Linked DNA regions of Homo sapiens: regions 1, 3 and 4 are each reported to be linked to region 2. The links are microRNA targets in miRTarBase. Many come from high-throughput screens and were not tested one by one. Region 2 holds a microRNA gene; each other region holds the end of a gene's coding sequence.

Evidence for each region. The annotated mature microRNA hsa-miR-26a-5p reads UUCAAGUAAUCCAGGAUAGGCU and lies in region 2 at 3,123-3,144, opposite strand. An mRNA with a match to its seed (bases 2 to 7 or 8) in the 3' UTR can be bound and repressed. Matches are read on the target gene's strand: a 7mer-m8 pairs with bases 2 to 8, a 7mer-A1 pairs with bases 2 to 7 and ends in A, and an 8mer does both.
Region 1: miRTarBase lists ZKSCAN1 as a target of hsa-miR-26a-5p. Seed matches in the 3' UTR shown: 7mer-A1 at 4,714-4,720 and 7mer-A1 at 6,991-6,997.
Region 3: the mRNA of LRRTM4 is a reported target of hsa-miR-26a-5p. The part of its 3' UTR that is shown has no 7-base or 8-base seed match.
Region 4: the mRNA of MTRF1L is a reported target of hsa-miR-26a-5p. Seed matches in the 3' UTR shown: 7mer-A1 at 4,302-4,308.

Annotation. Positions count from the first base shown.
Region 1 is chr7:100,031,920-100,039,947 of GRCh38, forward strand. ZKSCAN1 (zinc finger with KRAB and SCAN domains 1) reads left to right here. Exons shown (of 6, transcript NM_003439.4): 6 at 1,386-8,028. The coding sequence ends at 2,278. Among named protein-coding and RNA genes, the nearest start is that of ZSCAN21, 14 kb to the right of the region's middle. RefSeq lists enhancers at 5,411-5,912, 5,913-6,412.
Region 2 is chr12:57,821,536-57,829,563 of GRCh38, forward strand. MIR26A2 (microRNA 26a-2) reads right to left here and starts at 3,157; the gene lies at 3,074-3,157. It overlaps CTDSP2 (CTD small phosphatase 2), which reads right to left. Exons shown (of 8, transcript NM_005730.4): 2 at 7,913-8,028; 3 at 6,017-6,055; 4 at 5,461-5,562; 5 at 4,811-4,867; 6 at 2,692-2,784; 7 at 2,369-2,554; 8 at 1-2,192. The coding sequence ends at 2,067.
Region 3 is chr2:76,745,159-76,749,158 of GRCh38, reverse strand. LRRTM4 (leucine rich repeat transmembrane neuronal 4) reads left to right here. Exons shown (of 4, transcript NM_001134745.3): 4 at 243-1,474. The coding sequence ends at 464. Among named protein-coding and RNA genes, the nearest start is that of LRRTM4-AS1, 240 kb to the left of the region's middle.
Region 4 is chr6:152,984,939-152,992,966 of GRCh38, forward strand. MTRF1L (mitochondrial translation release factor 1 like) reads right to left here. Exons shown (of 7, transcript NM_019041.7): 5 at 7,919-8,028; 6 at 6,247-6,383; 7 at 2,424-5,157. The coding sequence ends at 4,957. Among named protein-coding and RNA genes, the nearest start is that of FBXO5, 5.9 kb to the left of the region's middle.

The DNA.
Region 1 (8,028 bases), not on the chromosome of region 2:
AATTTAAAAATTAGCCAGGCGGGGTGGTGCAGGCCTATAGTCCCAGCTACTTGGGAGGCTGAGGCAGGAGGATCACTTGAGCCCAGGAGATCGAGGCTGCAGTGAGCTGTGCTCATGCCACTGTACTCCAGCCTGGCTGACAGAACAAGACCCTGTCTCAAAAACAAAAACAAAACAAAGTTTCTTGTTTGTTAATCATCAGCTTGTTGATAGAAAACTCACAGAATTGGAGAAATATTTACTATTCCTTTCTTTCTGCTAATACCACTAATCATTTTCTATGAAAGACCTGTTCTTTTTTTGAACTTATGAATAATGTTAGAAATGGAACATGATGTTTTAAATGTATACATAAACCTTCCAATTAATTATCAGGTGATCCAGTAGTAGACCTGTGACCTCTGAAGGCTCCTGCTTCTCATCCCTTCCCTTCTGCTGTGATTTGTTGTCTTCCCTCTGCTCATTCCCCTTGTGTCTGTTTCTTCCATCCTCTCCCCATGCTCCCTCTGTTGTCATTTCCCCTTACTCTCCACTCTTTGCCTGCGCTCTCATTTTCCAAATTTTTGTTGTTCCAAAACTAGGACAACAGATCTTCCTGTTGTCCCAGTTTTTCCCCTTGTTTTTCTCCTATTTTATGTCCAATTAATATTGTGAAGTCAGGCCGGGTGCAGTGGCTCATGCCTGTAATCCCATCACTTTGGGAGGCCAGGGCAGGTGGATCACCTGAGGTCAGGAGTTTGAGAGCAGTCTGGCCAACATGGTGAAACCCCGTGTCTACTAAAAAAATACAAAAGTTACCCGGGCGTAGGCCAGGCGTGGTGGCTCACGCCTGTAATCCCAGCACTTTGGGAGGCCGAGGCGGGTGGATCACGAGGTCAGGAGATCGAGACTATCCTGGCTAACATGGTGAAACCCCGTCTACACTAAAAATACAAAAAATTAGCCGGGCGTGGTGGCGGGCGCCTGTAGTCCCAGCTACTCAGGAGGCTGAGGCAGGAGAATGGCGTCAACCTGGGAGGCGGAGCTTGCAGTGAGCCGAGATCACGCCATTGCACTCCAGCCTGGGTAACAGAGCAAGACTCCATCTCAAAAAAAAAAAAAAGTTACCCGGGCGTGGTAGCATGCACCTATAGTCCCAGCTACTTGGGAGGCTGAGGCAGGAGAATCACTTGAACCTGGGAGGCGGAGGTTGCAGTGAACTGAGATCACGTCACTGCACTCCAGCCTGGGCGACAGAGCGAGACTCTGTCTCAAAGGAAATAAAAATAAAAATATTGCAAAGTCATTTTGCAGCCGTGTAGAAGCTTCTCGGGAAACTGTCGCTTGACCCACCTGTATATTCAAAAGAAAAAGGTGCGATTTGAATTTTCTATTTATTATGTCAGGTGGTGAAAACAGGAATGAGAACGAGGAGTCAACCTCAAAGGCTGAAACCTCGGAAGATTCAGCATCACGCGGGGAGACAACAGGAAGATCCCAGAAAGAGTTTGGAGAGAAACGTGACCAGGAGGGCAAAACAGGAGAAAGACAGCAGAAAAACCCTGAGGAGAAAACCAGGAAAGAGAAAAGAGATTCAGGGCCAGCTATAGGAAAGGACAAAAAAACCATCACAGGAGAGAGAGGTCCAAGGGAGAAGGGGAAAGGATTGGGAAGAAGCTTCAGTCTGAGCTCCAACTTCACCACCCCTGAAGAAGTTCCCACGGGAACAAAGTCTCACAGATGTGATGAATGTGGTAAATGCTTCACGAGAAGTTCAAGCCTTATCCGCCATAAAATAATCCACACTGGAGAAAAGCCCTATGAATGTAGTGAGTGTGGGAAAGCCTTCAGTCTTAACTCCAACCTTGTCCTGCATCAGAGGATCCACACAGGAGAGAAACCTCATGAATGTAACGAGTGTGGCAAGGCCTTCAGCCACAGTTCCAATCTCATCCTCCATCAGCGCATCCACTCTGGAGAGAAACCTTATGAATGTAATGAGTGCGGGAAGGCCTTCAGCCAGAGCTCGGACCTCACCAAGCATCAGAGAATTCACACGGGGGAGAAACCCTATGAATGTAGTGAATGTGGAAAAGCTTTCAACCGAAACTCATACCTGATTTTGCATCGGAGAATTCACACTCGAGAAAAGCCCTACAAGTGCACTAAGTGTGGCAAGGCCTTCACCCGCAGCTCCACCCTCACTCTGCATCACAGAATCCATGCCAGAGAGAGAGCCTCTGAGTACAGCCCAGCCTCCCTTGATGCATTTGGCGCGTTCCTGAAAAGTTGTGTGTAAAGGAAGAATTTGCCATCAAGCCATTTCCCCCTTTTGTTTCTAAAATTATTTCAGAGATGTGTGCTCCTGGAGGGAAAAAGAAATACAGCCTCAACAGATTAAAAAACAAAAGTCACACTTAAGGATCCTTCTAGTCACATCAGCAGTGTTCTGCCTTTATGTAGTAGTTGGGCATATAATCCTTCCACACAGCCCCTGCAGGGAAAGGCTAATCTTACGGATAATCCACGTGAGATTTCCACACAAGAGAAAAGCACACGCATAGTGAAATGTCAGTCTTTTCAGTAATGAGGATACCTTTAAGGCACTCTTGGACTCTCGGCAACCACAACATAATAGTTGAAAGATCAAGATTGGCTCCACGAAAGTGATACGGAGGTTAGGATGCTACTTGCTGCAAACAAGCCCTACTTTGGCCAACATCCTGCTTATTTCTCAAAAAAGAGGGACAGTGAAAACAAAAACGACATTGGGACATGCTGCTCAAGGTAGTTATATATACGATAAGTTGTATATATGATCACTGGTAGCCTACCAAAGCTGTAGAAATCTAGGACTGTGCTAATCAGTATCAAACCAAAGATTTCTATCTCTTCCCGAAAGAGAGGGTATGTGCACCAGTCTACAGTTCCAAAGGACTGCAACAAATGTAGATGGTTCTGTCCTCATCCCTGAGATCAGTTCTACTGAAATGGCAACAACAACTCCAAATACATCTCTCCCTTCTTGAAATCCCTAAAGCACTATCGCACTCCTAAATGCATTTCTCCACAAGTTAGCACTTGATTGTATACTGTCTTTTAATCCTTCATTGTTTCATGTATGAAGTTTTTAATCACCCCCTAACCCCCAAAAAAGATTCGGTTGTCAAGGGATATATTTCTATCCCTGCCAGCACAGTGCTGGACATAGTGAGTACTGAACACCTAAGAGGCACTCATTCAGACTGACTTCTACAGGACTTCTACGTGTGTGATAAAAGCCTGTGAATCGTGAGTCCCTGAAATATGGTAGCCTGGCCCAGCTTCTAAAGAGGACCTTCGTAGCCACAAGGCATGCTAAACCTCTAGGGTCTGATGCTGTTTTTGTTCCAAATATAAACGAAAGGCACTAGTCAGCCGCCTGCATAGACTTTCTAAACAGTGAGTAAATACCATGGAATGTCAGAAATGACTTTATCATCGTCATCTTGAAGAAAAATATGAACACTGATGAAGGTCATTTTTTTTTTTTGACATCTTTCTGTGGCAAAGCTCTTAGAATTCTTTGCAGTTAGCTGCTGAACAGTATGATGATTTGGGGATTTTCTGAATCATTTGTACTTAGATACTGGAGTTCAGAAGATGTGATTTTTGTTGCTTTTCAGAAAAAGGAACGTGGTAGGGAGTGTTTTTTCCCACGCTTTTCCAGTAACTTTGCAAAAGCATTAATTGTTCACTGGCAATTACTAAATGTATTTTGTTGCTCTGAGAAACTCAGCAGTGTACTGAGATGTGGCTGGCTGTGCCATCGTCATAGTGCACAGTGACTTTTCTGTTTCTTATCACTAAAGACTGAGGTGAGGTTATGAAACTTTCATTGGTCCCATCGTTGTGCGCAGGGTGCAACTGGCTACCTAGAAGCTGATGGCAGGAGACTGTTTCACACACAGGAGATTGTGAGCTGTGTAAGTAGTCATCGCCACTCAAGTAGGACAAGGGTCCTACCCAAGGCTAGGACCGCCCTGCGGAAACAGAAACATAGACTGAGAACAAACCTCAAGACTATCAGTGTGACCTCCCCATAACAAGAGAACCCCATATATAGTTTGAGACTTTCCCTTGAGAAACTTATACTAAAACTATTACTCATCAGTCATTCACTGATCAGCAGCTAAAGTCCATGAGACCAAATGGTTTTATATGGAACCAACGAAGTGGGAGCTAAAACTGCACAGTGGTCATTCTTTGGCCTCTCCTTGGCTTTATGACTTAAACCAACTACAACTTCCCTATAGCTTCTAAGCAGTTTCATCAGCATTACTTGGGAAAACGTGTTGCAAGTCAACCAGTCACTAGGATATTTCTACCCATGCAACGGAAGAAAAACCCATTACTCCAGAAGAGTATATCTAAGTAACTAAAATGGAGGCAGAAAATGTTTTAAGGATTTTCTTCAAAGAATAAGCCACAGCAATGGTTTTGTAGAAAACTCCTGTGCTTTTGAGCAAGGACTTTTGCCCTCTAGAAAGCAACTGAGGCCAGGTGCGGTGGCTCACGCCTGTAATCCCAGCACTTTGGGAGGCCGAGGTGAGCGGATCACCTGAGGTCAGGAGTTTTGAGACCAGCCTGGCCAACATGGTAAAATCCCGTCTCTACTAAAATTATAAAAATTAGCCGGGCATGATGGTGGGCACCTGTAATCCCAGCTACTTGGGAGGCTGAGGCAGGAGAATCACTTGAACCCAGGAGGCAGAGGTTGCAGTGAGCCAAGATTGCACACTGCACTCCAGCCTGGGTGACTAGCAAAACTCCATCTCAAAAAAAAAAAAAAGAAAGAAAGAAACTGAAAAGTGAGGTGTGGAACTCCAGGCAACGACCCAAGCACTTATTTTTTAAGAGGGAAAGGACTTTGGTCATGTTTACATTGGCCTTTGGTTTTTTTTTTTCTTTCAGCCACAACTATATGCTGATATAACTCAGCCATCACTTTTGAGTTTTGTTTTTAAATGAAGGTTAAATGTGACCTGTGCCCTCACATTTAATTCCGTTTCATGGAGACATCTTCCTGACTTTGTTGGATAGCTGCCACTAGGGTTGCTTCGATCTTCAGCCACATGCTGTCCTTGAAGCAGCTATTTGAAGATGTGTTTTCTGAGGAAAACAGGCTACAACTGTTTATTAAAACCACTTGCAGTGCATTCGTTTATCAGATGCTCAGTGCAAAGTGTAATTGGGTCATGGTCAAAAACGCTTGCAACATCTAATTGGCGTTCAAGATAGTCATTCAAAAGTTCTTGGCCCGCTGAAGTCTGTTAACAGTTGAAACATTCTACAGTTAACCATTAGCATGCTAGTTGTCCTAATGGAAATTTTTGAAGAGTTTTTCAATATATACCCTACCCTTGCCAGGAAGAGAAGTAAAATCCTCAGGTTGTGGGGTATTTGTTTCTACTCCAGCCTGGCAGGCAAGGCTAAAACCTGAGATTATCGATCTATGAGACATCTTGATATGTAAAGCACTTAATATTAAAGGCATAAAAGTGAAACTGCTAAATATGTATAGAGAGGTTGACGTGTGATACGTGGGACAGTTCACATAGACATCAGAGAATTTATTCCAGAAAGGAGCCTCCTGAATGTGATGAATACGGCAAAGCCTTTAATCACATCTCAGCCCTTAGCATCGGAAAGCTTATACTGTAAATAAACTTGATGAATATTATATGTGAGGAAAACTTTCATGTATAGCACTCATTGCTTCAGACAGAAAATGAATTCCGTCGGTATGTTCCAATCGTGATGAATTTGAGAAACATTGCAAGAGGGAGCTCAATCTTGGCCGGGCGCCGTGGCTCACGCCTGTAATCGCAGCACTTTGGGAGGCCGAGGCAGGCGGATCACGAGGTCAGTAGTTCGAGACCAGCCTGGCCAACATGGTGAAACCTTGTCTCTACTAAAAATACAAAAAAAAATTAGCTGGGCACAGTGGCGCACGCCTGTAGTCCCAGCTACTCGGGAGGCTGAGGCAGGAGAATGGCTTGAACCTGCGAGGCGGAGGTTGCAGTGAGCTAAGATCATGCCACTGGCACTCCAGCCTTGAGTGACAGAGCGAGGCTCTGTATCAAAAAAAAAAGTTGCGGGGGGGTGCTCAATCTTAACTGCAGAGGATCTACAGATGAAAAAAAATGTGGGGAAATGCTTTAAAAAAATAGCAAAATGTGCAACTTCTTACAAAAATTGTTAACGTTAGGTACTTCTATATATTTTATATGACCATAATGTCCGTGTGTGTTTTGTACCTTCAGTCCCTTGTTATTGTTCCGTATATTACCTGTAAGCAGATACTGTATTTTATTTTAGCCTATTTGACAGAACACATCACTCAGAAAAAGTGAAGTTTCAGAGCAAACAGTGAAGAAATCAGTGTGATTGTAGACAAAAAGTCGGTTCACAGAACGGAGCAGCGGGGAGAGGAAGGGAAAAGCTTCATAGTTTGGTGCTTATCACATCAAGAGATTGGTAAATTTCTGAGGAAAGACAGGCTAATGGGGCACTGAAATGGAACAACTCCTTTAAACGTGCAGCCTTTTGAATTTTTCCTCAAAACCAAGAAGTTGACCTCTGAGCTGTCAGGTGACCACTGTGTGCAAAGGGGATGGATTCTCTTGTCAGTAGACGGTCTTCTCCATGAAGCGAGAGTAGGAAGTGTACTGGAATGGCCAAGTGGGACTGCTTCAGCTGACCAGGTTCTTTTAAACCGTAGTCATGCTTTCCCACTAACTCTTAAATCCTTATGCTTAGAAAATTGAGGATAAGGCTGGGCACAGTGGCTCAGGCCTGTAATCCCAGCACTTTGGGAGACCAAGGCGGGTGGATCACAAGGTCAGGAGATCGAGACCATCCTGGCTAACATGGCGAAACCCCGTCTCTACTAAAAATACAAAAAAATAGCTGGGCGTGGTGGCGGGCGCCTGTAGTCCCAGCTACTCAGGAGGCTGAGGCAGGAGGATCACTTGAACATGGGAGGCGGAGGTTGCAGTGAGCCAAGATGGCGCCACTGCACTCCAGCCTGGGTGATGGCGTGAGACTCCATGTCAAAAAAAAAAAAAAGGTTGGGGGGAGGATAGGACTGGCCAGGCACGGTGGCTCACTCCTGTAATCTCAGCACTTTGGGAGGCAGAGGTGGGCGGATCACTTGAGGTCAGGAGTTTGAGACCAGCCTGGCCAACGTGGTGAAAGCCTGTCTCTACTAAAAATACAAAAATTAGCCGGGCGTGGTGGTGGGCGCCTGTAGTCCCAGCTACTCAGGAGGCTGAGGCAGGAGAATCACCTAAATCTGGGAGGCAGAGGTTGCAGTGAGCCGAGATTGCACCACTGCACTCCAGCCTGGGTAACAGAGACTCTGTCTCAAAAAAAGAAAAAAAAAAAAGAAAGAAAGAAAGAAAATTGGGGATAGGAGAACAGCAAGGTGGGCATTTCCCGGAATTGTGTGCAGATGCATCCAGTCGTGGCATTGCAAGAAGTCTGTCTGATGAAGCTCGGGAAGCATTTTGCAATATTCCCTTTGGCTGTGTTCCTGTGTTCCCTGCTCCCACTTTTCTTCCCCTGGTTTGTGATTATTAGGAGAGAGGTTTTGCAAAGACTCGTTGCTGTGAAAGAATCTTTTTTTAATTTTTATCCTAGAGTCAGTCACTTTTATTCCAGGTAGTCATGCTGATCTGCTTATCCAAAGCCAGCTAACCAGGTTCATCCTACCATCCTCATGGAAGACTGTGTGTATGAATTGGAGTAACAGAACTGAAATACACTTAAACAGTGACAGCAGTACTTCCCAGGGTGGGGGCCATATTTCTCTGTGTCCTACTCTGAGCAACTTCTCAGAGATACGAGGGGGCTAGGGTTTTCCCATCTGGGAAATGGGGTGAAAGTCTGCAGATTGTTAAATGAAATATAGAATCAGAGAAAAAGAAAAGTCAGTGATATAAATAGATCATTTCATAGAAATTAGGGTAGATTTTTATTTCAACTACTACTGGAGAATTTAATAAA
Region 2 (8,028 bases):
CAAAAGATTTGGCCAAGGGCTAACCCTTAGGGTGGGGCTTGGAAGAGAGGCCCCTCCTGCAATATTAGGATAGCAGCCTAGGTCAGGCCTTGGGTCCGAAGCCACAGCTGGCTCTAAGAGTCTGAGCTCCTGCTTTCCTTCAAGAGACAGTATATTTCTGGCTAGCACATGGGGTCCTTCTCCCTTTAGGTACACCGGGACCCCATAGGCACCGGGGAGTGATGCTGGCGGAAATGGCCACATGAGTTCTGGGGACTCTGTTCCACTTTATGATTCCAAAGAGAAAGACAAGGCCTTATAACCTTGGGACAAGAAGGGAAGGTGGCACCACAACGCTAGAGAAAAATGCCAGCCAGCCACCGCTGAGAGCACGAAGCTGCTGCTCTACTACCTGCTTTTCTCAAAACTTGTTAGTTCCTGAGGCTGGATCTAGGGTGTGGCAATGGAAGGGATGATGGGGAAGAGTCCTGAGTGGGTGGTGTCCCTGCACCTAAAGCAATTCACAAATGCTTTGTGATACCTGCCTCCAGGGAACACAGAGATGGGAACAGGAGCGCCCTCCCACCCCAGGAGGAGGGAGGGAGGGAGGAGAGAACCCCACCCACCCCAGGGAGGCCACGATTAAGGCAGTGATGCTGAGGTGGGGCTCCTTTTTGGGAGGCCCCTTGTGCTCCCAATTACAGCAGCACTTCCTCTTATTTTCCACCCTGGGAAAACTTCCATTTCGTGATGACTTTAATTTTAAAGCATTCACTATTAAGAACCTTTGAAAGCAGGAGACACCCAGAGTGCAGGTCTGAGGGGCTCACTCACTCCTGTTACCAGAGGCAGAAAGCATGCGCATTAGGCTGGCAAATGGCAAGAACACTCATTCCCCCTCAGCCCAGGAAGAGCAAGAGTTCTGAGGCCCTTAAGAGGAAAAGCAACAGCCAGGAAGGATGAAGGCTGGAACAGACAGAGCTCGGTACAGGACAGGCCCTGGGGGAAGACACAACAGGAAAAGAGCCCTGCCCAAGAAATGGGAGGGGCTGGGACAGCTTAGTTTTTCCCAGCCTTTGGAACAGAAGTCCTTGCACCAGCACCAGCAGAGAATCCCTGAAAAGCAGACTTATGGAAATGATCCCGAGCTTAGCTGATCCACAAGCCATGGGGACACACGTCCACGCTTTGAGGATTTGTCTTTTCCCTGCAACCCCAGCGCCGCCGACATTCATTACAGGCCCAGGACTGTAACTTTGTCAGAAACAAACCAGGCCCAACACTCTGTGTTTAGAAAGAGAATTTTAAAACACAGTCAAAAGAACGGAAATCAGTTATCTGTCCTCTTCCCGGGCAGGGAGAAAACCTCCTTCCCCACAGGTTTGAGACTATGGCTAGGTGGTGAGGAAGGCAGGCTCAGCACCCCAGCCTTGGGGAGACATAGAAAAGGCCTATCCCAGGCACTCAGCCGGAGGCAAGCATAGCCTTTGGGCCACAAGACCTGATGGCCACTGGATGCTGGTCTGGAAACAAGTTCTCATCTTCCCAGAAATGTGATCTTTTGTCTGCAGCAGCTGGCTGGAGAAGGATTTCAGAAAGGTGTGTGCCTGGAGTACCCAAAGGCATACCCTTCCTTTATCCTTGGCATAGGCCTTACAACACTGAGGAAAGGCCATGGTTTGGCAATGGAGTCTTCAATAGTCTTCATCCCTACACAACTCAGTGGCTCTTAGGGTGACAGGAGAGGAGACAAGCTAACTTGGGAAGAGTCTTGGTCTTTCAGCTTCTCCCCCACTGAAACACTATACACTGGGGCCACAGTTCATGGCAAAACACACACACAAACACACACTCTCTCACAGTCAAACACACATCTCAACAAGTTGGCGGCAGGTAGCTCTGGGTATCATTGGTCTGGCATTCGCCCACTCGGCATCTAAGCTGTCCTAAAGCTCTTTCCAGTTACTTCCCGCTGTTTCCGGGCCGTGTGGTGAGGCACTCCAGCTTCTACTCTGTCACGCTGATCGTAAAGGCACAGTGTGGGAAAGTCCCCTACTGGGATGGCCGTCGCTTGGAAGCAGGGCAGGCTAAGGGGCCCGCAGCTGCCCAAGGCTGGTGTAGACGTCCTCTGCTCCGCTCAGCTCCTCAAAGATTGGGATCAGGTTCAGCAACTCAGTGTCTGCCATGTCATCAAACCAGGACTGCACAGGCACCTGGTGGGGGGAAGATGTGGTGTCAATCTCCCGACTGCTGCTTCCCCCTCCCTCGCCCCAGAGCCCTAGAGGGTGGCTGGGTCTTCCTGGAGGGGTGTACTTCTCTGGTGGAGCCCACAGTTCCAGTCTGCTTCCTCTCCCAATCCCTACCGTGGAGACGCATCAGGAGCACTCACTGCATTCTCGGGGTGGAATATGTAAGAAGCAGGCGAGTTGTCCAGGATGAGGGTCTTTCTCAGGTCCCTCCCCAGGCGGCTGAGGTCCTTGACGTAGCAGCCCTGGTGGAACACGCAAGACTCACGGAATAGGCGGGCCCGGAACACCCCACACCGGTCCAGCAGGTCTGTCACAGGGTCGGCATACTAGGAGGAGAGAAGATGCCTTAGTTTGGATACACTCCTGGTCCTCCTGTATAACCCTAGGGACCAAAAGGGAGCTGCTGGACCACCCCCGTGGCCACCACACCCACTCCTGGTTCTTCCCTCTCACCCCTAGGTACCTTGGCCAGGCTGGCAGTGAAGAGAACACATTCAAAGAGTTCCCCCATGCGTCTCAGGAACTCATCCACATAAGGCCTCTTGAGCACATACACCTGAGGAAGAGCAGAGCAGCCTGTTGGAGGCATCCCTGTGATGAAGGTTTGCAGTACTGGGTACCTTCACCAGTTACACAGCAGCAAGGAGCTCTCAACCCCTGCAGCCCAGCCTCCTGGGCTACCTGGCTGGAAGCCTGCGGCCCCCTGAGACCCCACAGACCCGGAGAACTGGCTGTACCCCTCACCAGGCTTCCAATGGATCAGTGGTCCCAACCTCAACCTGGCTCAGGAAGAAGCGCACACACCATGTCCCAGGAGCCATCTCTGTTTCCGGCGGCGGACCATCAGCTGCCTCCAGAAACAAGTAATCAAGAATAGGCCTCACAGATGGAAACAGCCTATCCTGGATTACTTGAATCCAGCCACAGCCTCTATGGGAGCTTTCTGTCCTTGGCTCCGACAGGACAGTCTGTCCAGGTCATGATTAGGTAATGAATTGCACCAGGGAGAAGTGACTTTTTCCCCTCAATGACCATAGACTAGACAGACACCCTGCCGAGTCTTGCTCTGCACCCGATCTTGTGCTTGCTTCTGCCAGCCACCACTAACACCTTTGTCCACCCTTACGATCTTGCACATTTTGGGAAGTCCTTTGGCCACCTGACCCCCCATCGGTCTGCATTCTATTGCTTCCATGACTCTAGCCTACACAGCTGCTACTAGAACCATTTCCAAAAAGGTCCTTTTTCTTTTCTTTATTTACTTATTTTTTTTAGAGATGGGGTCTTGCTATGTGAGGCCAGGCTGGTTGTGAACTTGTGGGCTCAGGCATTCCTCCTGCCTTGGCCTCCCAGAGTGTTGGGATGACAGGTGTAAGCCACGGCACCTGACTCCCAAAGCTCCTTTACCTGCATTACTCCCGAGCTCAAAGAGAGTCGGCCTGCTGTGACTCTCCCTCCTAGAGTAGGCCTGAACTGGCCACCAACTCACCAGACCACTCAGAGCTCTGCAGGAACCCTCTGTTCTAGGCAGCCACAACTTAACTTCTGTTAGCCTGCCATTCCTTCGACCTCCAACAAGCCCCTTCCTCATCCCAGCTTTCATCAAGTCTGGCATCCTTTCACCCACCTTGGGCAGGTAGTGCTCCCTCATTTTAATCTCATCCTTTTAAAAATTATTCATACCCTTCCTTGTTAGCCAGGAGTTCACAGTGTATATCTGTTTGAAAATATGCCTTCATCTTTTCTACAAGGGTTTAGCACATCCCTATACCCTCAGCTAGACTGTCAAAGGGCTGCTGGACCAAGCCTAGTCCTGACCGGGGCCTGGCGCTGGGCATGGCAGGCCTTCTGGGCAAGCAAGCTGAGTAAATGGTCTTTCACTAGCAGTGTCACATGATCCTTAACCTGGGACTGCCTGGGCTGCAGGCTGGAGCCTGGTCTGTTTAGATTTGAGTGCTCTTTACATTGACAGACACACACTGAGCACTTCCTCAGGCAGAATCCAATGGAGGGCCCCAGGGAAGGCAGTCAGAGAAGGCTTCACAGAGGAGGAGATGTCTGGGCTGGGGAGGAAGAAAGTCACTAGCTATTCACAGTGGGGGTGGCAGGGGGAGCATGGGCAAGAGGGCATTCCGGGCAGAGAAAATGGTTACTACTGATTTCCCTGCCTGTTACAGGCAAAGAGATACCTGGTTAAGGTATCTTAACAGGTATAGATACCTTTCTTAAGGAACAGAGAAATGTAATAAATCATTTAACAGTGCTGGCCACGTGAGGGGATGGTGGTTAACAAACGATAGCTATTATTATTATTAAATAAAATGTAAACTATTCTTTTAAACAGCTTGGTTGCAAAGAGAAAACAAGGGAGACAGCTGGGTGGGATATGGGGCTGAAACTCTTTTTTTAAGGTGAGAAAGCCTTGAGTGAAAGATACCAATAAAAAGGGGAGGCTGGAGTTATAGAAAAGGGATCAACTGACAGAACCCAAGCCCTGAGATGGGTGGAGGACCCCAGTACAGGTGAGGCAGAAGGCAGACCCCCCACCCTCTGGGCTGGGTGTGGTCTGGCTGGCAGCTCACCTGGTGAGTGGTCCCCTCAATCTCTATAGGCACTATGAAGTCAGCATTGTTGATTGGCTGGAAGGCAGAAAAGTTAATGCTGTCAGCATGGTGGCAAAGAAACATGAGGCCCCCACCATACCCCTAGGTGGGTGGGGAGAAACAGGTCTTAAAGACTCCTGGAAGTGCCTCTGGCCACCTCATTAAGGGGTTCTCACCCTAGTTCAAGATGTGATACCCCATTCTGGTTTTCCCTACTCCTTAGCACCTCCACTCTGACAAATTCTACCTGGGCTGAGAGTTTTGGGGCCTGAGTTTCCTGAGGAGACAAGCAGGGGCAAGGGCCAAAGGTGATCCAACCACTCTTTTAGGCCTGCCCTGTACAGAGCCCTCGTGGCTGGCTTTCTGTGCTATGTGGCTCGGGGGCAGATGCAGCCTGTTGGGAGTGACTGGAGATAGCAGCCCTGGTGGAACACACAGGGTTCCTACTCAACATTCTTCAGTGGGGCCTCTAGATACCTGTGACACAGGGTGGCCAAAATGCCAGAGGCCTGGCCTTTTCCCTTCTAATCACTCTTCTTTCCTCACCTTTAGGCTGCCTTACACATCTGTTGCCAGATTCACAAGAAGGCCCAAGATAAAGGTAGGAAGGGTTCCAGACATTGAGTTACCTTAAAGGAGCTATGCACAAGGGTTTCATCGAGGTCAATGACCACACAGATCCTTCCTTGATCTTCCTCTGTCACCTCTGGGAGCAGGCAGGTCCCTGGGATCTAAAACCAAGCCAGGTTGCTGAGATCTGCCTACCAAGAAAGCCCAATTGTACCCCTTGGCATAATTATGGGAAGAGCTGGGTTGTTTGTGGAGACACAATCACCAACCCAGGATAGGCACCACTTAAAGGCCAGGAAGAAAGGAGGTGGAGTTGTTTCCTTGGTTTCAGCCTCCCAGTGGGACTATTAAGTGATCTGGACATTGGAGGTGGTGGCCAGGGCAGGTGTGGGATGGACAGCAGCTGTGGGAAGAGGGCATGGAGCACCAGCTGTCCCCTAAAATCTAATGCCTTGCACATAGCAGGCCCTCAACAAGTATGGGGAACAAATGGCTTCCCAGGTCAGGGAGGTGGCTGGCTAGGCACCAAGGACTATGCACATCACCCTGCCCGTGGAGCTGGCAGGGATCACAGGATCCTGGCTTCTGAGTACTTACCAGGCCAGAGTCACGTACCTGGTAGAACTGGTACTGGAGACACTGGAGCAGATCCGACTGAGGAAGAGAAGGAGGTGGTCAGTGCCATCTCACTGCCTTTCCCACCCCATCCAAACCCACTGCTTCTGTCTTAAGCCTGGAGGGCAACTTTCTCCCCCAGACCCAGCCACCTGGAAGCTCCTACCATGTCAAAAGTGACTTTTCCTAGGAGTGGGGCAGGAAAAGGGAAAGGCTAGAGCTTCCTTTCCACATTAGGCCTGATGAAGGATGGAGAAGACAAGTGTCCCTGTTCTCGGCTGCCACTGCCTCTCAACTGGACAAAGTGAGGAACAGGGAACTCAAGTAACTGATTCAGGGACACAGAGTCAGAGGCAGAACCAAAGTCTGAATTCCTCACAGTGGCAAACTCTCGCTAAGTCCTTAAACTCAGGCTTCTCCTTGAGAACATGTTGTTTTCCATGCCCTCCTTAGGGGTTATGTGGGGGAACAAGCCCTATAAAACATCAAGTAAGCCACATTGTAGGTACCCAAAATGTGAGGGGAGGGAGTGCAGAGAGATCAGCAAGCCCCCCACCCCAATTTTTGCTAATACAAATGTTATGACCGCCGGGCGCAGTGGCTCATGCCTGTAATCCCAGCACTTTGGGAGGCCGAGGCGCGCGGATCACCTGAGGTCAGGAGTTCGAGACCAGCCTGATCAACATGGAGAAACTCCGTCTCTACTAAAAATACAAAATTAGCCGGTCGTGGTGGCACATGCCTGTAATCCCAGCTACTCGGGAGACTGAGGCAGGAGAATCGCTTGAACCCGGGAGGCGGAGGTTGCGGTGAGCCAAGATCGCACGCCATTGCACTCCAGCCTGAGCAACAAGAGCGAAACTCCATCTCAAAAAAAAAAAAAAAAAAGTTATGGTTTTAAGTGTTCTTAATGAAAACTTTGAAGAAAAATTAAAATCCTAGCACTTAGATAAACAATGTGGCATTCAGTGTACTGCCTTCAAATCTGTGTCCGCAGACTTTTTCCAGAATGCTATACAATTACACACTCTGCCTTTTTACTTAATGTTGCAACTCAATACTTCTCCATGTTATTGAGAACTCTGTAAAAGCTAATCACTCAGTAATACTGTCATGTTGTATTTTATTTAACCATTTCCCCTACTGCAAAATGCAGTGATTTTTCACTGATGTATGTCTTCAGCCTGGTCTTGAGAAAAAGGAAGGACAACCAGACCTCAGTGTTTCAGAGAAGTACCACTGGCTTTTGGGGCAGAATAATTTTTGTTGGTCGGGGCTGGCCCCACCTGTGAAATACTAGACATATAAAAAATACCCACAAAATCCCAAATGCCTTGCATGAGTATGGGAGAGAACTGCTGACAGGAGTTATTAACAGCATGGTAGAGTTTCAATTCCTTGGTTCCCTGTAACTCAGGTAACTTGGAAGTTAGCTTTGCATAATTGAGAACAACAACACAGGCTTTAGAGCCAGAGAAATCTAAGTTCAAATCCTGACACTACTATTTATTAACCATGAACTCTTCAGGTGCTACATAAACCCTCTACATAAATCCATATCTGCAAAGTGTGAATCCTGTGATCTCCTTACAGGGCTGCTGGCTGGATCACATGAGACAATATATGCAAAGCACCTTGCCTAGTTCCTGGAACCTGGAAGGATCAGGATCACAGGGGCCCTCAGAAACCACAGTGACATGTGAATGGCCCACACCGCAAAAGGGAAGGAACAGAAAGGAAATACACTACTTATGGAAGGATGGAGGAAGGGCCCCCTCTCAGCCAGAAATCTTTGCAACTTCAGGCAAAGCTTCCTTGTCCGGTTGCCATCGTCTGCAGGGATCTCCCATTAACAGTCCCTTCATTGCTGGCATCTTACCACCCCAACCCACCTACCTTAGCAATGGTGTTTGCTTCCTCCTTATACGCAGCGAGCTCAGTGGAGGAACTTGACTGGCCAACATGCTGGGCGCGAAAACAGCAGAAAAGGGCCTTGAAGATGTTACGTCCAC
Region 3 (4,000 bases), not on the chromosome of region 2:
GCTAGAGCAATGAAAAGTTGAAAGATACTGTTTTATGTACAAAGTCTATACACATAATATGCTGACAAAACAATATTGAGTTAAATAGTAATCATCATTTTGTTAATGTTTATTTGTAGTTGAATTTGTAGCTGATGACTTGAAACAGCATGAAAGAGAACAAAAATACAACCTGATGAGTGCTGTCCTATCTTTCCAAAGCAATTTTATAATCCACCCATCTTTCTATTTCTCATATCCAGATGCCACACCACATGAAGCCCTTGCCATATTACAGCTATGACCAGCCTGTGATCGGGTACTGCCAGGCCCACCAGCCACTCCATGTCACCAAGGGCTATGAGACAGTGTCTCCAGAGCAGGACGAAAGCCCCGGCCTGGAGCTGGGCCGAGACCACAGCTTCATCGCCACCATCGCCAGGTCGGCAGCACCGGCCATCTACCTAGAGAGAATTGCAAACTAACGCTGAAGCCAACTCCTCACTGGGGAGCTCCATGGGGGGGAGGGAGGGCCTTCATCTTAAAGGAGAATGGGTGTCCACAATCGCGCAATCGAGCAAGCTCATCGTTCCTGTTAAAACATTTATGGCATAGAGAAAAGAAAAAGAGAAAAAAAAACTGCTTGAAGAGGGCAGCGAATGCACCTGCAGCATTACCGGGAGGACTGCAGAACTTTCTTTGCTTTAAAACATAAAACAAACAAAAATGCTCCCGGATGTAAATAGTAAGAGTGTCAAGTTCTTATAAAAATAGATTTCACCCTAGCTACATATAGGTTTGTTTGTATATTTGATTTTTCTACACTGCATGGTTCCTGGGCTGGAGAACCACAGGGGAGCAAATAAACAGGGGTGGGTGGGAAGCTAGGGAAACAACCGTTTTCCTCTTTAGGTGTGTGTAATTCTCACAGATTTTATTTAAATTGCTTTCATTTATTTTTTCTTTAAAAATGCTGTTTGTTCTTGTTTTGTTTGTTTTAATTTTTTTCTTTCCTGGTCAAGTTTCTAATACAAAACATGAGCATTAAAGCTTATGTTGTACCAAAAGAAAATGTGCTTTACCACGGACCACGGAGAAAGTTGACCACAAAGTTTGACAAAACTACTGGAAAACCCAATAAGTCTGGGTGAATGACCCTTCATGACAAATGCCATATATGGTACATGATAGAAGGAATTTTGTTTTGTCCCATTGGCAGCCCTCACTGTGTAGGATGCCTGAGAGAGCCATGAAGATCTCCGAATGAGAAGACCAGCAGAATCATTCTCATGTGGACTAAGGCTATAAGAGAGATATGACCATGGGCTCAATGAATGAAACTGCCAAGCTGACAAATTTCTAAACACAAGATAATGTGTAACATTGCTTTTTAAATTAATTATCAATTAGCTTTTGTGTAGTTTTTATCAATAAAAGAAAAAATATTGAAAAATAAATATATTATTTTGTGGTTGGTATACCACAGCCCACCTAATGCTGAGTGCTTTATCTGTATATTGTGGAATGCTTCTAGTCTATATCAGGGTACTTCAATAAGAATCAGTTGGTATCTATCAAGTGTTTTCTGTGTGTTCCATGGTCAGATAGGAAGGCCCTGTGAAGTGCAGAAAAGGAATATGAGACGTGGTTTATGCCTGGTATGGTTTGTCTGTGTCCTTACCCAAATCTCATCTTTAATTGTAGTTCCCATAATCCCCACATGTTGTGGGAGGGACCCAGTGGGAGGTAACTGAATCATGGGGGTGGTTACCCCTGTGCTGTTCTGGTGACAGTGAGTAAGTTCTCACAAGGTCTGATGGTTTTATAAGGGGCTTCCCCCTTAGCTCAGTTCTCATACTTCTCCTTGCTCCAGCCATGTGAAGAAGGACGTGTTTGCTTCCCTTTCTGCCATGATTGTAAGTTTCCTGAGGCCTCCCCCGCCATGCTGAACTGTGAGTCAATTAAAATTCTTTTCTTTATAAATTACACAGTCTTGGGTATGCCTTTATTAGCAGCATGAGAATGGACTAATACATGCCCCAATACACTTCACAATTATTTTCAGAGCTATGTGACCTTACTCTAAATAAAATTATATAATAATATGAGAAAAAGTAAGTATCCATGGAAGGGTTAGAGGTTGTCAGACCTTATAGAAGTGAAAGAACTGTGTGGAAATTGGTTACTAACTAGGAAGATGGATAGCATCACCCATTTTTTTTAACAAAGGAGATCACTCCGTGCACATCAGTTGTGACATTTTCTCTCAACTTCTTTCATGTTGTAATGCTACATCTTAGCAATTCTCTAATTGTGGACATTCTCCTGATGTGTCCACTGGTGTAATTTGCCTAGTTTTATTTTTAAAACTAAATTATACTACAAAATTTATGTCACCCTTTATTTGGACAAGTTTCATGTTTTAAGGCATGCTTACTTACAGTGGCCCTGCTGAGTGTTCCAGAACCAAGTTAATAGCTGCCATCCATTTAATTCCAAATTCTGCTGAATTAATAAAAGAGCCTTGTAAATACCATCACATCACAGCAAACTAACTGAACATGTTTTGTTTTCTCTCCCTCAAAGAAGGTCTGTTTTACTACCACTTTAAACAAAGCTTGAAGTTAAATTCTATCCCAAAGGATACAAATAGTATGTCACATTAAAGCAAAATTCAATTGAGGGAAGTTTTTTTCATGTTGGAACACAGGGCTATTGCTGTTGAATTCTGTTATCTTTCCTCTTAATATTATATTCTGGGTTACATGTGTTTTCTTTTTTTTTTTTTTTTTTTTTTGAGACGGAGTCTCGCTCTGTCGCCCAGGCTGGAGTGCAGTGGCACGATCTCGGCTCATTGCAAGCTCCGCCTCCCAGGTTCACGCCATTCTCCTGCCTCAGCCTCCCGAGTAGCTGGGACTACAGGCGCCCGCCACCAGGCCCGGCTAATTTTTTGTATTTTTAGTAGAGACGGGGTTTCACCCTGTTAGCCAGGATGGTCTCGATCTCCTGACCTTGTGATCCGCCCGCCTCGGCCTCCCAAAGTGCTGGGATTACAGGCTTGAGCCACCGCGCCCGGCTACATGGGTTTTCTTAATCATTCAAGTAGAATCAATTTACTAGAAGTTCAAAAATTAAAGATAATTCTTTGGCATTGTGATTTTGTTTTCAGAAACTATTCAATACATTTGGAATATGTCTTCCCAAATTACAAGGATTTTTTGGTGGGGGTCTTTCTGAACTACAAGGATTCTCTTAATCCTTCTTATCTTCTCTATCTATCCAATGTCCCCCATATACCTTATCCACCACACCACCCCTTCCAGAATTGATTTATGAGAGGTCACACGTGAAAAATCTCGATCAAATTTGGCTGATGTCAGCTCTAATTTTAATTCTGTTTCTTATAATCAAAAAGTCATAAATACATAAGACTCTTCATGTTATTTAAAACTGCCATATTTGGCCAACAGTTGCCTCAAGGTTAATATGAAATAAGTGAACTACTAGCTAAACAGATAGTATTATAAAAAAGTTGTGTCCTATTTATATGAAAACTTTCAAAGAACTTATTTAAAATGTAATTTACATATGCCAGAACAGTTTACACTGAGCTCCAGAAATCTATGATTAAAACAAACAAACAAACAAAAACTCAAACCAAATTTACTTTAGCAGGCTTGGAAAAGTCCTCAGTTGAAAAATTCAGGCTTTATACTGTATGAAGGGTCAAGCAAGTTTTCAGATAAAACAGTGTGTGTGTATATATATGCTATTTATATACACATACACAAATAAATAGTATATATATTTATTATATATACAAATATATGTATATAGTGGTATTTCAACAAAGGGGTTAGGAAGAAAATAGGATTATTCATCACTTAAGCCCAAAAGTCAATTATTTTTATGCTGCAACCCTGGTGTAACCAAGGAGGATGAAAGGCTTCTATTAGTCAACACTCAGGATAAATTATCTTCTGGGCCTAAAAATGATAGGGAACAAACTTGTCTATGGAGG
Region 4 (8,028 bases), not on the chromosome of region 2:
TGTAGTTTTTCCATGCAGAGTTTAGACTTTCTTCTGATTGCAGTGGTTAGCTGTTGGAAGGATTTTGGCAAGGTAGTTATTTGTTGATAGAATATTGAAATTATAATAGCTTTTTTATGTAAAAAAAAGAATGTAAATGTTAGCCTTTCATTCTCACAATAGGTTAGCATTATTTTCAGTGTACAATGGTCGTGCTTCTCAGTGTGAGTTAATTCTCACTGTGGCTACCAAAACCACACAGCTAGTAAGCGGAGATTCGAGTGCCCGTCTGCAGGATTCAAAAAGTCCATGTCCTTTCCTCTTATGCTATGCTAGCCTATAACACTATCTGCTGGAGTCCTGGTTGGTTTTAGTACATTTCACATTACTTCACAGTTTGACCTTAGAGATAATTGTATTCACCTCTTCTATTTTCAGATGCTGGCATAAATACAAAATTCGAAGCAGGCAAGGTTTCTCATTACATTAGTTTTTATTTGTATTTTTTTGAGACTGAGTCTCGCTCTGTAGCCCAGGCTGGAGTGCAGTGGCGCGATCTTGGCCCGCTGCAGTCCCTGCCTCCTGGTTCAAGCGGTTCTCCTGCCTCAGCCTCCCAAGTAGCTGGGATTATAGGCATGCGCCACCACGCCTGGCTAATTTTTATATTTTTAGTAGAGACGGGGTTTCACCTTTTTGTCCAGGCTGGTCTTGAACTCCTGATCTCAACTGATCCATCCACCTCGGCCTCCCAAAGTGCTGGGTGGCATGAGCCACCGAGCCTGGCTCATTAAATTAGCTGAGCATCTGGAATATAACCTTTGGATCTTATCCTCAGCTTAGATTTGTTCTTCAGCAGTTTTTTTATTCTCTAGAAAAAGGCTGATATATTATTGGAGAAATCAAAATTTCTGTCATAATGTAATATAAAGAACCAAGCATGTTTTGTTGCATGCTAGAATAATTTGTTAGGTTTTTTTTTTCAGCTTATTGGGTTACTGCATCATTGACATTAAATAATGTTTGAGCTTTAATTATTATATTATTCATAACTGTCGATAGGTTCAGTTCACTGGCACCTGTTAAAATTCTCATCTAAGTGAGAAAGTTAGGGCCACTCTGGCGGGGTGTGGTGGCTCATGCCTGTAACCCCAGCACTTTGGGAGTCAGAGGCAGGAGGATTGCTTGAGCCCAGGAGTCAACATGGTGAAACCCCATCTCTACCAAAAACAAAAAAAGCAAAAATTAGCCAGGCATGGTGGTGCATACCTGTAGTCCCAGCTACTTGGGAGGCCGAGGTGGGAGGATGGCTTGAGCCCAGAGGCAGAGGTTGCAGTGAGCTGAGATCGCATCACTGCACTCCAGCCTGGCGACCAAAAAATAAAGGGCAAGGGGACATTCTGAATTTTACTAGAAGCCAATAGATGTATACACCTCATTTTTCAAATCAGCATCAATCAGTTGTTGGGTGTTTAGGTGGAACATGAAGTGCAGAGAGAACTGCCCTCATTCTTTCGTAAAATTCTTATCGCAGACCTATCACATGCAAAACAATGGGATATATGGAAATAAATGGGACATGACACCTGCCCTTGTGCTTATTATCTGTGGGCTTGCCACATAATAGCCATAATAGGTGTTCAGTAAATAATTTCTGAATACCAATCAGGCATATCTGTGGGGGTAAGGTGTATAAAATAAAGCTATGTGGAACACTGGATGAGTCAAATACATTTAAATTTGTGGAAATTTTGGCCGGGACTGGTGGCTCACACCTGTAATCCCAGCACTTGGAAGGCCTAGGTGGGCAGATCACCTGAGGTCAGAAGTTCAAGACCAGCCTGGCCAACATTGTGAAACCCCATCTCTACTAAAAATACAAAAAATTGGCCAGGCATGGGGGCGGGTGCCTGTAATCCCAGCTACTTGGGAGGCTGAGGCAGGAGAATCATTTGAACCTAGGAGGCGGAGGTTGCAGTGAGCCGAGATCACGCCATTGCACTCCAGCCTGGCCAGCAAGAGTGAAACTCCATGTCAAAAAGAAAAAAAAAAATTGTGGAAATTTTCATAGAAAAAAAGGAGTTACTTCTATGTACCAGGATAAGGGAATAATCTGTAGGACAGGGTTTCTTAACCTCAGCACATTTTTGGCCAGATAATTGTTGTAGGATGTTTAGCAGCATCTCTTTTATTCCATCTTCCAGTTGTGGTAACTGTCTCTAAACGTTGTCAGATGTCTCCTGCGGGGGCAAAAGACCCTCTGGATGAGAACCATGGCTGTAGGGGATGTCTTCTGAAGAAATGGGCACAAAGGAGGCCTACAACATAAAGAACAAAATAAGGGAAAGGGTAAATGCAGTTGCATTTATCAGGATAATTTAATTTGATGTGGCATGGGGGGTGGTGTATAAAGTGAGCTAATACAAAATGATGCTGGATACAGATCATGGATGTATTGTATACACAGTGGAAAGCTGGTTTTATTTGGGAGACAATGGGAGCTTTTACATTGTTGAGCAAAGGAGTGACGAGATCAGTCTTGCTTTTTAGAAAGATTAGTTTGGCAGTTACTTATTTGTAACCAGAATTAGACAGCAAATCGGATGCAGGGGAGAAGTCAGGTGACTATTAGTCTGCGAAGTAATTCTGGACAAGAGCAGTGGTAATGGAATTGAAAAGGATTAAAAGTGTTTACCAGGTTTTAGCAATAAATCCAATGCGAGGAAGAGGAACGTAAGATGACATTTTAAATTTGAGAGTGGTAGTACCATTAAAAACTAATGAATTTTGATTAACTAGTGCTTTAGGCCCTTTGAAATTATTTTGAATTTTGGTTCTTTCTGAACAATGCACCAGATTTCTAGACAAATACTTAAGGTGTTTTTAGACATCTATTTAGTGCCTATTATAGCATGGTGTTAGCTTCCGAAGAGACAAGAATGATGAAAATACAATCTTATCCATTAGTGGCATTGTGAGAGGTCTAGCAGTAACTTGTTCATCCTATGCCCTGATCCACCCTTTCTCATTTCCTTATTAAGCACACAATACTGAGACCAGAATAAAGCAGTGCATTTACTACCTTGTGAAGAATGTTCAGGTGTTCAGGTATGGTATCTTCATTTTGTGCTGCTATAACAGAATACAGGAGACTGGGTAATTTGTAAGGAACAGAAATGTATTTCTCACAGTTCTGGAGGATGGGAAGTCTAAGATCAAGGAGCTGGCACTTGTTGACTAGGGCTTTCTTGCTGTGTTCTCACATACAGAAGGCAAGCTAGCAGGATGCTCCCCGAAACCTCTTTTATTATGGGCCTTCATCCCAGTCCTAAGAGAATCCCTCATGGCCTAGTGATCTCTTAAAGACCCCACCTCTTGATGCTGTCACATTGGCAACACTTGAATTTGAGGGGACACATACAAGCCATAGCAAACTGAACATTTCTCCCATGCCAGATAGCACCATGTTCTTTGTCAGTAGGTGGTGGTAGAGGGGCACTGCAGGATAAAGGGGCTTCTTTCACTTCTAAGATGATACTGTGACAGTTAATTTTATGTGTCAACTTGGCGGGGCCACAGGTGCCTAGCTACTGGGTCATACTTTTTTTTTTTTTTTTTTTGAGATTTAACTTTTGCTCTGATTTTCCAATTATAAGGTCAAACATTATTCTAGGTGTTTCTGTGAGGGTGTTTTATATGAGATTGACATTTAAATCAATCAGTGAACTCTGAGTAATGCAGACTGTCCTCCTCGATGTTAGTGGGCTTGATCCAGTCAGGTGAAGGTCTGAAGAGAAAAAAAGACCGTCCTCTTCCCAGAACAAGAGAATCCTCCAACAGATACCTTTGGACTGGACCTTGCACCATCAGCTTTCCTGGGTTTCCAGCCTCCTGCCTCACACTCCAGCTTTTGGACTTGTTAGACTTAATAATAACAACACAAGCCAATCCTTTTAAGGAAGTTTGTCTGGAGAATCTTGACAAACACAAACATCTACTGAGAGTTCCTGTCCAAGTTTTGCTCACACCCTAGCAAGAGGCTTCTGGCTTACCAGTTGGGAGTGTGAGGTTCTTTGCTTGTAAGACCTGATCCACCAGCGGTACACCAGCTCTGGCCCAGGGCAAGACAGGGAATTTCCCAATCACTGAGTAGGCTGTAGCCACTCTCTCCATTAGGCCTGACTTCACCATGGGGAAGGGGAGACCCTTTCAAGGGTATTCTTTCCTGGGGTACTCTCAGTCCTAGGACATCATAGCTCTCTTTCATCCCTCTTAAAAGTTAATACCATTATCAGTTAACAGTTTTTATATTAAAATTATCCCTGTTCAAGTTAATGGTATGGTTTCTGTATCCTGACTGGATATTAGGATACAGTATTTACTGTCTTATTTCTACTACTTTATGTTTAAAGTTTTTCATAATATTTAAACTGAAGTTTTGATCATTCATTAAATATTTACACAGAACAGGACAAAGGATGATTTTCCTTTGTCTAGTTATTGTAAGGTAGCGTCCAAGATTTACCACCACATCATGATTACAGATGGTCACCAACTTATGTTTTAGGATTTTTTGACTTTATGATGGGTTTATAGGGATGCAGCCCCATTTCAAGCTGAGGAGCTCCTTAGGGCTTAGGAATCATACCTCTTTCACACCATGGTAAAGTTGGAAAATTGTTAAGTCAAGCTGTCATTAATTAGGAGACTGCTGTGTTGCTAACGTTATATGCATTTTTAACTTATGATGGGTTTATTGGGAATTAACCACAATGTAAATCGAGGACCATCTGTATATTGTATGATTTTTGCTAATGCATTGAGAGAGATCTGTGTAAATTATCTATGACTTCAGAATATGCATATTACCTCCAACTGTGTTAACTCAACGTTTTTCAAGAGAGTAAGGGTACTTTCACCCTATGTGGATGTACTGTAGAATTTTTCTAAGCTACGAAAGTCTATAAATAACAAATCAACTTAAACTTTTTGGGAAATAATTTCTACTAAAGATTCATAATCGGCGTATTCCTTCAATGACTGTACAAGTTCATCCAGTAGATAATCTCCTTGCATAAAAGTTTCAAGATCATGCAGCGTCTTGTTTATTCTGTGATCTGTGACCCGGTTCTGTGGAAAATTATATGTTCTTATTTTCTCTGATCTTCCTTTACTTCCAATCTGTATATAGAGAAAAAGATGAGATGCAGCTAGATTCAGGGCAATTTAAACCTACAAATTTAACTTATTTGGAGACTTAAGTTCTTGATTTATAACATGAATCAAATGCGAGAACCAGGTTTTAAACACTTAGAATCTCAAATGACATGGGAACATGATATAGAAAAAAGAACACGTGCTCTAAAATCAGATTAATATCTGAATCCTGCCTCAGCCACTTCAATGTTCTATGACCTCGGGCAACTTAGTTTCCCGATCTGCAAAATACAGTGTCTACTACACAGTGATGATGACAATAGAGCCTGGCACATAGATGCTATTCCTATAGTCGCTGAATACATATAATCTCTGTGAATTAATGCAGTCATCTTCCGTGGTAACAAGGTGGTGAGTTTCCCATATTGAGGAATTCTTAAAAGGCTCTGTAGTTATAAAATTAAATACCGGCCAGGCGCGGTGGCTCACACCTGTAATCCCAGCACTTTGGGAGGCTGAGGTGGGTGGAGCACCTGAGGTCAGGAGTTCGAGACCAGCCTGCCCAACATGGCAAAACCCCGTCTCTACTAAAAATACAAAAAATTAGCCGGGTGTGGTGGCAGGCGCCTATAATCCCAGCTACTCAGGAGGCTGCAGCAGGAGAATTGCTTGAACCCAGGGGGTGGAAGTCGCAGTGAGCTGAGATCGCACCACTGCACTCCAGCCTGGGTGACAAGAGCGGAACTCCATGTCAATAACAAACAACAACAACAAAAATTAAATACAGGAAGAAAAAAACAGGAAGAAAGCCAAGTTGAGTTTGCTTTCCAACTTTCTTGCGTAATTAAAATTTCAAAGGATTAAAAATGAATGAGGACTCAGTATATATCTTTATTTTTAGTAACGGATTAAAAGTCTGAGAAAAATACCTTTGAATATAGAAAACAGGGCAGAGATGTAAGATTACTATCAAAGAAGGATAGCCCTTAGACTACTTGAATTGTTTTCAACACAGGTTAAAACAAATATATAAAAACCAAGTTATTTAAAAAAAGCTGAGTTATATAAAAATATTTCTATCCTTTAAAAGCATTTTTAAAATTCTTTTTTTACCTGAATTTTTCTAGCATTCTGTCTTTTATTTATTTCTTCTTCTAGATGCATGCTGTACAGTTTTGCACGTAACTTTGTCATAGCCAGCTCTTTATTTTTCAGCTGAGATCTCTCTTGTTGACATTCAGAAACAACACCTGAATAGTGTTACGAGAATTAAAAAGTTTTAATAAAAAAATCTTCTTTACTTATTATCAAGGAATACTTTTCCTCCTCATCCTTTTTCTTCTTCCTTTATGAGGGGAAAAAACAGAGGACTCTAATAAAAAAGGGAGAGACTATAAGCTTAACTTTTGCAGAGTTTATCAGAAAACTGAAAATTTAAGTTTTGAGCAATAGCACAAATAGCACAAAGTCTTTCTTTCTTTCTTTTTTTGTCTGAGATGGAGTCTCGCTCTGTCGCCCAGGCTGGAGTGCAGTGGCGCGATCTCGGCTCACTGCAAGCTCCGCCTCCCGGGTTCACGCCATTCTCCTGCCTCAGCCTCCCGAGTAGCTGGGATTACAGGTGCCCGCCATCACGCCCGGCTAATTTTTTTTTGTATTTTTAGTAGAGACGGGGTTTCACCTTGTTAGCCAGGATGGTCTCGATCTCCTGACCTCGTGATCCGCCTGCCTTGGCCTCCCAAAGTGCTGGGATTACAGGCGTGAGCCACCGCGCCCGGCCTAGCACAAAGTATTTCTATACTGAAGGCATACATACTAAACAATAAGCATAAATCATTTAATACAGATTGTTTCCCCTCAGCTAGCCACCATGTTTTAAAAGTAACAACTACTTATAGAAACTACGATACATGAAAAATCCTATTACCAGAGAAAATCACTTAACTTTTTTAGGCTATCCATTTTTTCCCCCAATTTTTGTTTCATATTCTGTATTACCTAAGACATCATCCAGTTTAACATAAGGATATTCTCATAATTTAAAAGAACAAAATCGTTAACAATCCAGTACTGGCCTCAACCACTATTAGTTAATAGGGACTATGCCCATTTGAGATCAGTCACAGTAAGAGATTCTTGTTTCCTTTCTAGATAACTGAGATTTGCTATCCCTATGCTCTTTATCACATGTGAATCACTGTGGTGATACCTGTGAAAGACGTTTAGTTCGAGCTACAGTATACTGGAGATTTCGATATAGTCCCTTTGCCTAACTATCTAGAATCAGATCCCCTCGAAGTATGTGAATGAACTTAATGGAAAGAAGCCCCTGCAATTATATGCAAAACTGTATATGTGTTTCTGAGTAGGAGGTCCAATGCTTTCATATCATTTTTTTTTAAAGGAAGCCATGTTCCCCTCCCCTGCAAAAAGGCTCAGAACCAACAATTTAGAGCATTTTCTGATAAAGAACCCATGATAATTACTTCATTGTGAGAATTTTCTTTTTAAGTGTAAAACTCAGAACTCCACCTGAAAGGACCATCCACACCTTCTATAAATAGTAATTAATACAGACATTCCCTGAGTTTGGATCCCTCCCTCTTCCTCGCCTTGCAGTTATCCCACGGAGTATCAGGTAAGGATTCTAAGTAAATCAAATATTTAATAACAATCCTTAGAAGTATATACTTCTCTGGTAACCGAGGATCTATTTCAGTGGAAAATTAGTCATATTATTCCAAAATTGATTTCTTTGGTGTCATATATTGAAGGAATAAGTACACACCTGTTGGAAGATGAACTATCCGGACAGCACTGTCCGTGGTATTTACATGCTGCCCCCCAGCTCCACTGGCTCGCTTAGTGTCAATTCTCAAATCTTTCGGATTAATCACC